Regions from separate parts of the Homo sapiens genome. Here regions 1 and 3 are each linked to region 2. Evidence: fine-mapped expression QTL. A gene starts in region 2. Each other region holds a variant in brackets. All regions are shown on one strand. Distances are between the middles of the regions.

Region 1 (2,761 bases), 22 kb after region 2:
TGCCTCGGATACCCGATCTCCAGGATGCCCTGGCCTCTTAGAATCCCACCATCCCCCTGCAGGATACCTTCCCCTTTCCTGCAATCACAAACATCAACCAGTCAATCATTCGTTCACATCAGAAACATCTTCTGGGCACCCGTGAAATGTGGAAAATGGAGGTGAGCAATGCAGAAGCATGCACGCTCTGTGAAACTCAGCCTGATGAAGAAACCAAGTCTTGCAGTCTTATTCCCAAATACACACTCCACACGTGTAGTCTCTCCCCAGTCAGACATCACCATCACTCCTATCCAAGACACCACCCCATCAGAGGGCATGGCAATAGCTGCGGGTAGCCTGTGTCCAGCCTCGCCCCCATCCTCTGTCCACCATCCACCACACATGCAGCCTGGTAAATCTCTAAAGGTCAAATCCAGTGGTGCCACCAGTTTCTGGAACTCAGGGATCGAGCCCTACTGTTTTAGAAGAACATTTTGCTTTGCTTTAGGACTAAAGTCCCCACTGGCAGTGCCAGCTCCAACCTCTGCTCCCTTCCATCACAAACATAACCGATTTTTCTGAGTTTTGCATTTACTGTGATCCCTTCCATCTTGGCCCTTACAGGCAGTGCTCCCCTCTGCATGGCACATCTTTCCTGCCCCCTTTCTTTACCCTGGCCAAGTTCCACTCCACACCAGGTGTCAGCTGCAGACCTTCATAAGCCTCACCATCACCTCGAGCTCCTCATAGTCCCAGCATTTTTCTATGCATTCTCATTTGTCAAATCCCTGTCTCTCCTGCTACTGCGGGCTCTCTGAGCTCAGTATTCCCATCTATCTTATCAAGTGCTACAGGGCTTATGGTGCAGCAGGGATGCCAGAGGGATAAAAATGAAGCACTTCATCTGTGTGCTTCCATCAGAAGCCCACGAAGGGCTAAAGAATGCAAGGGTTTCAGTGGCTCTGACTCAGGAACACGTGGGCAACATGGATGTCCTTGGTCTGTATGGAGCGGACACAATCCTTCCCATGACCTTCCTAGGAAGCCTGGAGTTCTTATCTCCCCCACAGGGTACTCCAAGACACCCTCATTAAGCTGTCCCTCTACCCACCCTTCTACTTACCTTCCTCCTCAGACATCCAGGTCACACCCTCTACCAGGGCCACCACCTCTTGGCAGTTCTCTGGGTGCTGCGATTCCACCCATGTCCGGAGCTTCACAGGCAGTGCACCTAGGAACTGCTCCAGCACCAGCAGCTCCAGGATCTGCTCCTTGGAGCGTGCCTTAGGCTGTAGCCACTGGTGACACAGCTCTCGGAGCTGGTCCAGGGCCTCCCGGGGACCTGTCATGTCCTTATAACGGAACTGCCGGAACCTCTGGCGCGCGGCCTCAGGGTCACCTGGATGCTTGCCCTGCTGTTGGACCTGCTCACTGGGGGCATCTGC[A/G]CTCAGGCTTCCATCTTCAGCATATAGGGCCTGGATCTGGGCATTCCGGGGACCAGCCACCTCCTGGTTCAGTGTGAGGACCTCAACAACCTCAATGTTCATTAGGGGACTCTCAGCAGGAAGAGGATCCAATTTAGGGTCCAGCTGGAGCTCAGGATACTCTGTAAGTCAAAAGCAGAGCAAGACAAATGAGAACAAGCACATGAAAAGATGCTCAACGCCATTATTCACTAGGGAAATGCAAGTCAAAACCACAGTGGAATATGCTTCAAACCCACTAGCATGGCTGTTACCAAAGACAGATGATAACAGGAGAGGATGTGGAAAAACTAGAATGCTCACACACTGTTGGTGGGAACATAAAATGCTGTACCACTCTGCAAAACAGGTTGGTAAATCCTCAGAAGTTAAACACATAGTTATCCATGACCCAGACATTCCCCCCAAGTATATATAGCTAAGAAAATTGAAAGCATATGTCCCCAAAAACTTCTATAAGAATGTTCACCAAAGTGTTATCCATAATAGCCAACAAGTACAAATAACCCATTGTCTATCAACTGAGGGATGTATAAGCAAATTGTGATCTAGTCATATAATGAAATATTGGCAATAAAAAGGAATGAAGTACTACTAATATATGCTACAACACAGGTGAAACTTGAAAACATCATGCTAAGTAAAAGAAGCCAGACACAAAAGGCCACATATTATATGAAATGTCCAGAATATAAAAATCCACAGACAGACAAGTAGATTAGTAATTGTTAGGAAATGGAGAAATTGAGAGGATTGGTGGGAGACTGCTAATGGGTATGCGGTTTCTTTCTTGGGTGAAGAAAATGTTCTGGAATTAGACAGTAGTGACAGCTGTACAACCCTGTGAATATATTTAAAAACACTGAACTGTACACTTTACAAGAGTGAACTTTACAATGTGTGAATTATATCTCCATAGAGCTGTTATAGGGAAAGAACAAAAGGCAATGAGGGTTGAGAAGGGATCTGTGACACTGTACATGTATGCATGGTCACAGGAAAAAGAACCTTCTCCAACCTCCACTGGGGACAAGAACGAGGATATATGGGAAAGGCAGGGGCTCTGGGTCCTGGCACAGAGTCCACAAGAGCACATTGCTAAACTGAACTCCAGGACTGTCCTGAAATGCTGAGGAGGCAGCACAAAACAAGAGGAAACAAGAAAGCTCTCTAAAACTCCCCTTCAAAATGCTAATTCTAAATAATTTGGCCAGCGGGGTGGCTCACACCTGTGATCCCTGCACTTTGGGAGGCTGAGGCAGGAGATTCGCTTCACGCCAGGAGCTTGAGACCAG
Region 2 (2,761 bases):
GGCACAACACATGTATTCATAGTGATTATACTTGGACATAAAATTCCCCATCTGTTCCTCATACTGGACCTGTATGGTGGCTGATCTGGCAGAAGTCCCTCTGGCTGCAGGGCTGGGGAGGGAGTTGCTTTCTCTTTCCTTTTCCAGTTTTCTCCTTCCCTGCTTGTGGGGTGACGTTTCCAATCTGCTCCAGGTTACGTGTCCAGCCCAAACCTCCTGGGCTTCCTGCCACTGCCATTCCCTCCTCCACATTCAGCCATGTCACCCACATGCTCCTCAACTCCCATGCAGAGACTGACCAGGCATACCACATCTTCCTTGCACTGTGACTTCTACCCTGGCTCCACGCTGGAAACAGAAACACAGTCTTCCTCCACTCCTTCCTGTCTTTTGGCATCCCTCCTTACACGGAGTCATTTCCACAATCAGATGTTTCCCTACTCCCTTAGACTCTTGAAATCCAACCCCATGCCTTCCTCATTAGCACTGCCTTGTACGGTCCCCATCAAATATCACCCAACACAAATGGAACCCCGATCCCTAACTTACAGGCGTTACATACACATCCCATCCTGTTCACCTCTGTAGTCTCTCTATGGGGTGCACCAGCATCGCTTAACCAGTGCAGGCCCCCAACACCCCAGTTACCCCTGCCCTGCGTGGACTGGCCTTAATCTTCTGTTCACTTGGAAAATACACATGTTCTCTGCAAGGTTCAAGCTTCACGTACCATTGGAAGAAAATGTGTCCACGTCTGGAGCTGGGATGACCTCTGGGGTCCAATAGGCGTCACCTGCCTGGTGCCGCTGTGCCAGGAGGCTCTTGGCTGCCACCTGTGGATAAGCCGCAGAAGATGAGTTGAGGGAGGAAAAAGGAGCCGGGAGAGGCCCGCTGGGTCGGCAGCCCCAGAGCTCCAGACGCCAGCCTGAATCCCCCGCCCCTGCAGCCCTCGACCCAGGCACCCTCTGTCGGGAGGGCCCACCCAGTCCCACCCAGTCCCACCCAGTCCCACCCAGTCCCACCCAGTTCCACCCCTGCCCGTACCTGCGAGGTACTATAAGTTCCCTCCCAGCTCTGCAGCAGGAGAGCCTCCCGACAAGCTCAGACCCAGCCGGGCGCTCCTGCAGGGGAAACCTGACTGGACCGGCCTTCCCCGTCCCTGAGGCCGGAGAGATCCCGATCCCATCAGGCCCCTGCCCTTGCTCGGCCTCGCCGCATGAGGGACCCCCGCAGGCCCTGCTCGTTTCTCCGGCACGCCCAGATCACTTGGGGCGGCTCTGGCCTGGTCCTGCGCTCCGGCCGCACCCGGCTAACAGTGAAACCTCCGAGCCAACCTTGAGGCCGCCAGACTCACCTGCACGCACCGGCCAATGGCGGTGCTTCCGGTGGCCGGCGGACGTGCCCGCGCTCCGCGCAACAAACAACTCCCAGAAGGCCGCGCGCCGGTAGCCGTTGCTCCCACAGGCATAGTCATTGCCGGCGGGAGCATGGGGCCCCGCGGCGGCGGGATGAGCTTTTTCCTGTGTTCGCGACTAGCATTGTGGCTTAGGGAGTTGCTTCCCGCGGCTCTGCTCCTTGCAGCGCCTGTCCCCTCCCCCTTAAACGGGCCACGCTGGTTCTCATCCAGCAACCGAAGCCGAGACTGTGGAGGCGGCGGTCGGCGTCCAGGGCGGGACTAGCGCCTATGGGGCTCGGCGCTGTCATCTCGGGTGCCTTCCCGGCGCCTTGCCCTGCTGGGGAGAGAGACCAAGACTGAGCCATGAGAACAGTCCAAGGCCGTTAACCGGGAGCTCAGGGGCAAGGGCGCCCGCCAACATCTGCGCCTGTGGCAGGGACTCAGGGACAGCCTGGGCGTGGGGACGCGTCCTAGTGATAGAAACAAAGCCCCGGGAGTGCCCTGCTTGGAGCATTCCGAGTGGAAGGTGGAAGCACGCTAACTGGAGGCGATTCGTCCTAGGTGATCGCTCAGTCGAGCCTATTTGGCTTTCTGTGGTAGCTCCTAAGTGGGACAGGGAAAAAAATAGGGAGGCTGGCAGTGACCAAGTTCTGTTTTGTACCTATTGCTGCAGAAGTTGTGGGACAGAGTTCTGTTATTATAAATGGTCTGATGTTCAGTCTCAGTGCGTTGTGGGGCTCAATGTCTGAGACCCACCACCGCCTGACCCGTCCTGGCTCTTCAATGAGGGAGACCACAGGAAACTTTCCTACGAAGGCCAGGTAGGCGGGAACCACTGTGGCTCAGGCACCCTCAGCTCCTGGACTGTGCTTTTGTGTCTGGGGTGCATCTGTGACTAGCCTTCCTTGGCTTGACTGTTTTGTAGCTGACCTTGTCGATAGCTTTACCCAACAGTCATCATCTTTTTACTTGCTTATTTTCATACCTGGCTAGCACGACCCTGCAATTTTTAGATTCTTCCGGGAAATCTAGAATCTAACTCCCTAAGGGAGGATCTTGATGGATTCTAAGCTAATCAGAATGGACTCAAGCTTCTTGCTGTGTGAATTAGGCAAGGATATTCTGGCCAAGGAGAAATAAGGCTGCTAGGGGTTTCCTGGGAAGGTTCCCTCAGTCTTTTTTTTTTTTTTTTTTTTTTTTTTTTTTTGTGAGACGGAGTCTCGCTCTGTCCACCAGGCTGGAGTGCAGTGGTACGATCTAGGCCCACGGCACTCTCCGCCTTCCGGGTTCACGCCTTTCTCCTGCCTCAGCCTCCCGAGTAGCTGGGACTACAGGCGCCCGCCACCACGCCCGGCTAATTTTTTG
Region 3 (2,761 bases), 57 kb before region 2:
GGCCAGGTGCAGTGGCTGATACCTGTAATCCCAGCACTTTGAGAGGCCAAGACAGGAGGATTGCTTGAGCCCAGGAGTTTGAGACCAGCCTGGGCAACACAGTGCAACTGTGTCTCTACAAAAAAATTTAAAAAGAAAATTAGCCAGGTGTGGGGGTACACACCTGTAGTCCCAGCTACTCAAGAGGCTGAAGCAGGAGGATCATTTGTGACAGGAAGGCTGAGGCTGCACTGAGCCATGATCACACTGCTGCCACTCCAGCTTATGCAACAGAGACGGTCTCAAAAAAAAAAAAAAAAAAGCTGGGCATGGTGGCTCACGCCTGTAGTCCCAGCACTTTGGGAGGCCAAAGTAGGTGGATTGCTTGAGCCCAGGAGTTCGAGCCCAGCCTGGCAAGATGGCAAAATCCCATCTCTACTAAAAATACAAAAATTACCAGGGCGTGGTGGTGCATGTCTGTAATCCCAGCTACTCGGGAGGGTGAGGTGGGAGGATCATTTGAACTAGGGAGGTCAAGGCTGCAGTGAACCGTGATTACGCCACTGCACTCCAGCCTAGGCGATAGAGTGAGACCCTGTCTTAAAAACAAAACAAAACACAAAGAATCTGGACATGCAAGAATGAAATGGAGAAGATGAAGGGCAGGTTCACATATTAGAAATGATGCCACAGAAAGGACATGCTGAGAAGGATGGTGAGAGAGGGAATGACCTGGAACCTATAAGGGAAGATGAAGCAGAGAGGGAGGAAGGGGTGGGATTCTCAGCACTGGAGCACAGGTGATGACCTCTGAGCTTAGAAGATGGGGAGCACAGGTGAGAAGGCTATGGAGCACTGTGCAGAAAAGATTTAACAGGGCAGGCCTGAAACCAGCATTCTTAGGAGAAGCCTATTCACAAGGTTAGCCTTTGGCTGCAACTGAGAATTTGGATTTGGGGATGGTTCCCACAACCCTAACTGATGAGAGTGGTTTACTACACCCACACTGCACACACTATGTGGTTTATTCCAAACACTGGCTTTCTCCTGGTAGTCTGGAACCTTGGTCTGTGCTAGGCAGAGAGTGTCTATGTGGCAGCCTCAGTCAAAACTCCTAGCACTGAGTCTCTTAACAAGATTCCCTGGTAGAGCTCATGTCTCATGAGGTGTCACACCTGAGTGCTGGGGGAGCCTGGCACATCCTGAATGACTCCACAGTGAGGGGACTCTGGAGGCTCATGCCTGGCTTCCTCTGAACTTATCCCCACGCGCCTTTCCCCTTTGTTGGTCTCATTATACTGAGAGCTGTCAGCATGACTCTATGCTGAGTCCTGTATACTCCTAGTGAATGGGGTGGTCTTCAGGACCACCAACCACCACCCTTTCCATGAAGTGCATCTCCAGTGACCTGCTAGGCTGCTCCCATTAGCTGCTCCCACATAGTGGGTTCTCACCTGGATGGCAGCCCTGGGTGGTTCCTCTCTCAGCCACCCATAGCTCGGTCCCTTGCTCCAGCTGGGAGATGACTTCAGGCTTCGGAAGCTCAGGACCTGGAAATGGGGAAAAACACAGGAGGTGAGGGGCTGCTCAGGAGAGAAACAACAAGCCCAGGCTCCAGACCAGACTCCCGACTGTGAGGACACGTGGGCACCTCACAACATGGTGAAGCTCTGCATGGTGA[T/G]GGAAAAGGGCAGACCTCCCTCTTCATGCACTCCCCATAGGGAGTGAGGACCCAAGGTCAGGTCCTCACACCAGAGGCCCCATGACTTATAACCCAGAGAGAATCAGCTATCACACCTTGCGAAGCAGGGCTTACCTATGGAGAGCAGGTGACCAAAGGTCTCCAGCATCACGTCACGGTAGAGGATCCTCTGGGTAGGGTCCAGCTGCCCCCATTCCTCCTGGGTAAAGTCCACAGCCACATCCCGGAAGGTCACTGGTTCCTGAAACATCACACACATTCTCAATCAGCTGGACTATCTCCATCAGTGCTTTCTGGCAGAGGAAGAATGGAAAAGGAGAAAACAGGCAGGCCTGTGTCACGAGAGACTGCACGTTATGAATGATGGGAGTCAGGTCTCACTGGGCACCTATTAGGCCACTACACATAGGTGTGGGTTGTACAGTGAGGACATGTGAGAGGACTCACCAAGATCAACAACGCCAGGCAGAGCTGACCTACATCTAACAAGACAGACGAGGGTACCAGCAGAGACTGGCCTAAACCACTTATTTGCAGGTTTGTGAGCTAAAGAAACAGTTACTGTTTTAAGTAAAACAGATACTGTTTTAGGACAGTGTTACACAGCAGCTAACTAATACACTCACTAATACTTAGATACAAAGTGAAATTGGCTGGGCCACATGCCTGTAATCCCAGCTACTTGGGAAGCTGAGGCAGCAGAATCGCTTGAGCCCAGGAGGTGGAGGTTGCAGTGAGCCAAGACACCACTGCACTCCAGCTGAGGCGACAGAGTGAGACTCCATCTCAAAAAAAAAAAACAAAAAAACAGGTTCACCATCCTTCCTGAAAAGAGAAGCACACAGGGCTGGGGTCAGAAATTCGCCTGCTTTCAGGGCAAGGCAGGCTCACATGACAGAAGTGGGCCAGTTTAAGAGCCCACAAGGACACTTACCTATGAGTGGTGGGACTGGAGGTGATGGGGAGCATGGACCCTGTCTGAAGGAGCAGCAGGGACTCAGAACTCACTGATTACGGGAAAATACAGGTCCCTTTGTCAGAACTGCTCATCTCTGAAGAGAAGCTGAAAATTAGGTCAGA

The links. PIP is the estimated chance that this variant, and not a neighbour inherited with it, causes the effect.
Region 1: its variant is fine-mapped to the expression of ZNF544 in whole blood (INTERVAL, PIP 0.98).
Region 3: its variant is fine-mapped to the expression of ZNF544 in whole blood (INTERVAL, PIP 0.94).

Annotation. Positions count from the first base shown.
Region 1 is chr19:58,205,547-58,208,307 of GRCh38, reverse strand. ZNF274 (zinc finger protein 274) reads right to left here. Exons shown (of 8, transcript NM_133502.3): 5 at 1,106-1,588. Among named protein-coding and RNA genes, the nearest start is that of ZNF544, 22 kb to the left of the region's middle. The variant A/G (reference allele first, on the strand shown) is at 1,428.
Region 2 is chr19:58,227,540-58,230,300 of GRCh38, reverse strand. It overlaps ZNF544 (zinc finger protein 544), which reads right to left and starts at 1,387. Exons shown (of 7, transcript NM_014480.4): 1 at 1,355-1,387; 2 at 731-833. RefSeq lists an enhancer at 685-1,511.
Region 3 is chr19:58,284,878-58,287,638 of GRCh38, reverse strand. ZNF8 (zinc finger protein 8) reads right to left here. Exons shown (of 4, transcript NM_021089.3): 2 at 1,796-1,922; 3 at 1,434-1,529. It overlaps ZNF8-ERVK3-1 (ZNF8-ERVK3-1 readthrough (NMD candidate)), which reads right to left. Exons shown (of 7, transcript NR_144447.1): 2 at 1,796-1,922; 3 at 1,434-1,529. Among named protein-coding and RNA genes, the nearest start is that of ZNF8-ERVK3-1, 7.3 kb to the right of the region's middle. The variant T/G (reference allele first, on the strand shown) is at 1,661.